Linked DNA regions of Homo sapiens: region 2 is linked to region 1. Evidence: fine-mapped expression QTL. A gene starts in region 1. The other region holds a variant in brackets. All regions are shown on one strand. Distances are from middle to middle.

Region 1 (3,031 bases):
ATAGGTGGTCAGAGAGGCCCGTTTGGAAAGTCCCTATAGGTCAGGCAGAAGAACTTAACCTTGGGAGTCCATTAAGAGTGATAAGAGAAGGAAGCCTGGTATTAGCAAGGAAATAAGAGAGAACTGAGAAACCAGATGCCAGGAGACCACCCTTGTTGCAATAATCCGGATGTAAAATGATGAGGGTTTGGATTTAGAATGTTCCAGGGGGAACAGAAAGGAAACAAAGAATTCATGAGACATTTCAAAGGAGGAAATACCAGGTCTTGATGACAGGCTGGAGATGATAATGGGAGAAGTCACACATGATTCCAGTTTTTCTACCTTGGGAAGCCAGCAAAGTGACTTCTTTTTAGATCTCTTTTCTTTGCTCACACACAAATTGACCCCCTCATAGAGTTCAGTTGAAATATCAATTACAAACAGAATTGATCTATTTTTTTTCCCTTAGAAACACAGGTAATCTTATTTGCCTTTAGCTAAACGACCCAAGATGCACCTTGCTGGGCTTTGCTCTTGGATAGCACTCATACCTCTATGACAATGCTCCCCACTTTGGCCTTGTACTGCGTGTGTGGTGTGCAGGTGCGTTTATCACCCACTAAACCAAAAGTCCGTGTTGTGCAGGGACCACGTCTCATGCAGAGTTAAGTATTCAAAAGTTTTTGTTAATTGTTTAAGAAAATGAGATTTACATGAAACAATACTTTAAAAAGCTTTCCAGAAACAACAGCATTAAAACAAAATCACTGAAATTAAAATTTACATAAATTAAAAGGTTCTGTGTTCCACATGCCAAGAAAAGATCTTACACTATTGTAATAGTGGTAGGGTCACACAGTTTTATTCCTCAGCTTAAGTGCTGCAATACAGTAATAATGCAGTACAAGAATACTGTATAATAAACCTTAAACGAAACACTTCATATATACTTTACACAAGTTATTGGATATTGCTTAGTATTTATTTCCCCCACCCCTGCTGTGCAAAGATATTAATATCCCTCTTTTATAGGAGAGGAAACAGGTAAAGAGAAGTTAAGAAACTTGCACAAGGTCATCCAGCTAGTAAATGTTGGAGCTGGGATTTGACAACTTTGTCAAGTCTCCATCCTTAACAGTTCTGCTCTATATTGCATAAGCAGACAGCTCCCTTTTGGGGACTGACAGGTTATTTGAGGCATATGAACCATTTTTGGTGGGGGGGCTTTCCCACCCAGTACTGGAAGTGTCTAGTTATATGGGGCATAACCTTAGGAGCAAGCAGGAAAAGAAGAAATGTATTCCAATAGTGTTCAGAAATATACCAGAGTAAACGAATAACCATCAATAACAGCATTTTACAGCCTACCTAATAACACAGGAATAAAACCCTTTATCTGGAACCTAAATAATACCCCCTCCACTCATTTTATTAAAAGCCTTGCTTTATTTGGAAACTCTTAAAATAAGTGGTCATACGATTAAAAAAAGCAGCGGCGCGCCCCCTCCCCGGCGGCCGGGCGCAGCTGTCCGCGCCTCCCCCGCGCGGCTGCCCGCATTCCAACTCTCTGAGGTCACGGGCCGCCGCCGCCTCCCCGGATCCGCCCGCCCGGCTCAGGGGGAGGGACGCCTGGGCCCGGCCGCCCCGCTGCTCCGGCCGCGCGTCCCGCGTCGGTCCGACGGTCTGTCCGTCCTCCTGCCACCCCCCGCCCCCACGGGGCTTCTTTGTGCGGCGCTCCTCGCCGGCCGGTCCCACCTCCAGGCCTCGCCCCTCGCCGTCGCCACCGCCGGACTCTGCCCAGGGGAATGGTCTGCGAGCCGGGTTTTTGGAGACAGGAAGTGAGGCGTGCGAGCCCCATGAGCGCGCCGCGGCCCGGGCTGGCGTGCGGGTGCGGCTGCGGCGGCCGCGCGGCGGGGCCCCGGGAGGCGGGTCGCTGAGCGGGGCGCGCGGCCCCGAGGATGCGGGAGCGGGAGCGGGAGCAGGTGAGGGCGCGGTCCCCGGCCGGCGGGAGGGGCGGGCGGCTGGCCCGAGCGGTGGGGTGTGTCCACTCGCCCGGACCCCGGAGCGCGCCCGCGGCCCCGGAATCCCGGAGAATGGGGCGCGGCGGCCAGACCCGTAGCGGGAGCGTAACAAAGAGAAAAGTCTTGTTTTTCAGGTTCGCTCTCATATACTTGAGTAATTTCTAAAAGGAGTCTTGAACTTCTATTCCGAACGCCCTGGCCGATTGTTGCGGGTTAATTCTGGATCAGGGTTTTAAATGTGTTAGGCATATTTGTGCCTCTCAGAATATATAAACGTGAAATTCGCCAGATAACTTTGGCGAGAAGGGGCGCAGGGAAGGACTGTTTGGTAACGCCTGGGTTTGTTTTTGGAGTAGAGTATTTACTCTGGAAACAAGAATTCTTGGATCTGCAAATTCCGACTTGTGATTTCTGCAAATCCTGATTAGATTGGCCGCTCTTGGCATGCTCGTCCTATTTTCTTTTTTGCTGAGAAAGCCTTATACTAATAGCGTATGCTCACAAACACATTCAGAACATTCGTGTGCTCCAAGTGACAACTGCTGTATGCCTAATAGTTGCTGACAGTTTATTTATTTTTTTAAGTTTGGGACACGACAGTAATTTTACTCTGAATATAGTCCGTTTCGTTTCTAGGGCATTTTATTCTGGAGCATCTACGCACAGATGTTTTCTCCGTGAGAAACATGGGTTTAATGCTATAGCTATAGATATTACTCTAAAAATGTCACATACTCTCTCCTTTTAGTGCTTATTTTATTTTAAAGCAACTTTGGCAAAATTACATGTGGTAAGGACCTTAATAGGAAAGGGGAAACGCTGTAAGATTGAGAGGTAAAGTGTATTTGAGGAACTTTTGGAAAGGGTTGTAGAGAGGGAAAATTAAAATGAATTCACAAATAGTTCAGACTGCCTTTTGTAAACTTGTACTGAAGCAGAATCTAGTATGTATCTGTTTACTTACCACAAAACGGAAAGATTTTGTAGAGAAAAAATTATATCCTAGTTTTCCTTTAATAGCTATTTAT
Region 2 (2,500 bases), 300 kb before region 1:
CCATATCTTTGTGCTAATCCAATTAAGGATATTAATATAAATTATTGATACAGAATAAAAATGGCAAAAAGAAATTATAATGATGAAGACTCAGGCTGCTAAGGACTGAACTCTGACCTTTTTTTCTCTTGCCCCAAATCCTTTCTAAGCAGACCCCACAAACCATAAAATCTCATTAAACAGTTTTTTTAAACTAAGCTGGTATAATGCAGCCTATTTTCCAATCTGACTCTAGTGTAGCATCACATGAGAGATGGCAGACACCCCCTGATCTTAAACATCCTTATGTACTGACTTCAAGTCTTTAGACAAAGATTACCTTTCAACCAATTGCCAACTAAAGAATCCCTAAAACCCACCAATGACTTGTAAGCCATGGCTTCGAGATGTACAGAATTTTCAGGCCCAATCACTGTATACCTTCCATGTACTGATTTATGATTTTACCTGCAATTCCCATACTTTCCTGAAATGTACAAAGCCAAACTGTAACCCAGTTGCCTTGGGCACACTTTCTCAGGACCTTTTGAGACTGTGTATCCCCAGACCGAGGTCACGCATATTGACTCAGAATAAACCTCTTTAAATATTTTGACAGAATTTGGTTTTTCTGTCCTCACTGGCACTAAAGAAAAACATTTGTGACAATTTCTTTCCTTTCTTTTTTGATACAGTCTTGCTCTGTTGCCCAGGCTGGATGGAGTGCAGTGGCACAATCTCGACTCCTCCACCTCCCAGGCTCAAGCAATCTTCATGCCTCAGCCTCCTGAGTAGCTGGGATTACAGGTATGTGCCACCCTGCCCAGCTAATGTTTTATGTTTTTAGTGGAGACACGGTTTCACCCCATGTTAGCCAGGCTAGTCTCAAACTCTTGACCTCAAGTTGATCCGCCTGCCTCAGCCTCCCAAAGTGCTGGGATTACAGGTGTGAGCCACCATTCCTGGCCCATCTGGGACAATTTTAAGTGGCTGGCAAGCTCCCTGAGGACAGATAATCCTCTTTTACATCTGTGCTGTTGTTCTGGAATATTGCTG[T/C]GCACAGAAGAGGTACTCAAGAACTATCTGTTGACTGAATTAATTATAATCTTTGTTTCTGACGTCTGTTGACAACACCTTAAAAACCAAACAAAATTGTCATAGTAATAAGATTCATAATTAAAAGCTATTAACCTTAAAATTTTTAAGTAGTGACAGATCTATATTTCTTTAATCATTCCCAAATTTTTAAAATAAATAAGACTTTAATGATTTTTGGATGATTTAGTAAAACCAATATCTAGATATTAATAAAAGCTCAGAATGCCATTTTTTTAAAGCAGTAAGTTTATAAAAGTCCAAAAGTAGGAGGAATTTTGGCAGATCTAAGTTTAAAAAAAGTCATCCTTTCACTGTTGTTATAGTTGTAACAACTTCAGGATGATGAAATTAAAGAGCATGTGGAAACAAAGATTGCAGAATCACCAACCCACATGCCACTTTAGTTTTGTCGATACCAACAATATTGTCCAAAAAGGGAAAGGTGGGGAAAGGGAGTTATTAAATACTCAAAGGCAGAAATAGTTTTCCATATATAACTTTACTTTTTCCTAACATTTAAATACCACTGCATGGCGTTCTCTGTCTCTACAGTATTCTTCCTATTAGTCTGTAGATAAACACAGAATCACCAGCCCACGTGTCCCCTGAGTTTCGTTGATACTGCCCACCCCCACAACATGAGAAAAGCACTAAAAGCTCAAAGACAGAAAAATCGTTTTCCATGGACAATCAATTTTATACTTTCTTAATATTTAAACACCATTTCAAGGTATTTCTTATATTTGTCTATAATATTCTCTGTATTTGTGTTAAATACTTTATTTAAAGAGAAATTTGGAGGCCACCCAAGGTATCTAAATATGAAAACACCTCTGATTTCTTAACATGTTAAAAAACAGAATTCCTGTTTTCTTTTTCCAGCTAAAGTTACAAAATATATGTAAGATATAAAAATACATGCTTTATACTTATTATCTAAATCCTTCTTCCATTCAGAAAAGAACATTTCTGGTAAAAGCAAGAATGACATTTTAATGGAACAATCTGATCCACAACATCACTATAATGTGGCAAGACTGTACCAGAGTGAGAAACAGAACAAGACATCTGTCCAACTCAGCACCCCTAGCACCCATCAAAGTACCAATATATACAACCCAATCATTATTATTTAAAGAATAAACTAATCAACGCATGTATCAATATATGAATTAGTAAATAAAATGGAAAACAAAGGAACAATTTGTGTTTCTCACTAAATAAGAACAAAACAAATTGCTCCATTTTATGTTCTACAAAAAATGTATGTATATTGGGGGTAAGCAGATGAAAATAACAAGCAGAGTACAAATTGGCAGCATTTTAATATATTATTGCCCCTAATTTATAATTCATTTTACTATAACATTATTGTTGAAAAATTTTAAAACAAAGGTAAAGTTAGACTTAATCTCCGTTAGTA

Which allele goes with the higher level. Alleles are on the strand shown, and positions count from the first base shown. SD is a standard deviation of normalised expression in the study named.
As copies of T replace C in region 2, the expression in tibial artery of the gene that starts at base 1,608 in region 1 goes up (moderate effect, 0.51 SD a copy in GTEx).

What was found. PIP is the estimated chance that this variant, and not a neighbour inherited with it, causes the effect.
Region 2: its variant is the best candidate, but not a certain one, in a credible set for the expression of PTPN21 in tibial artery (GTEx, PIP 0.55).

Annotation. Positions count from the first base shown.
Region 1 is chr14:88,553,584-88,556,614 of GRCh38, reverse strand. PTPN21 (protein tyrosine phosphatase non-receptor type 21) reads left to right here and starts at 1,608. Exons shown (of 19, transcript NM_007039.4): 1 at 1,608-1,964. It overlaps LOC124903405 (proline-rich protein 2-like), which reads left to right. Exons shown (of 2, transcript XM_047432047.1): 2 at 1,555-1,958. The coding sequence ends at 1,919. RefSeq lists a silencer at 1,601-1,650.
Region 2 is chr14:88,848,854-88,851,353 of GRCh38, reverse strand. The region is part of intron 7 of TTC8 (tetratricopeptide repeat domain 8); the gene reads right to left. Among named protein-coding and RNA genes, the nearest start is that of TTC8, 25 kb to the right of the region's middle. The variant T/C (reference allele first, on the strand shown) is at 1,036.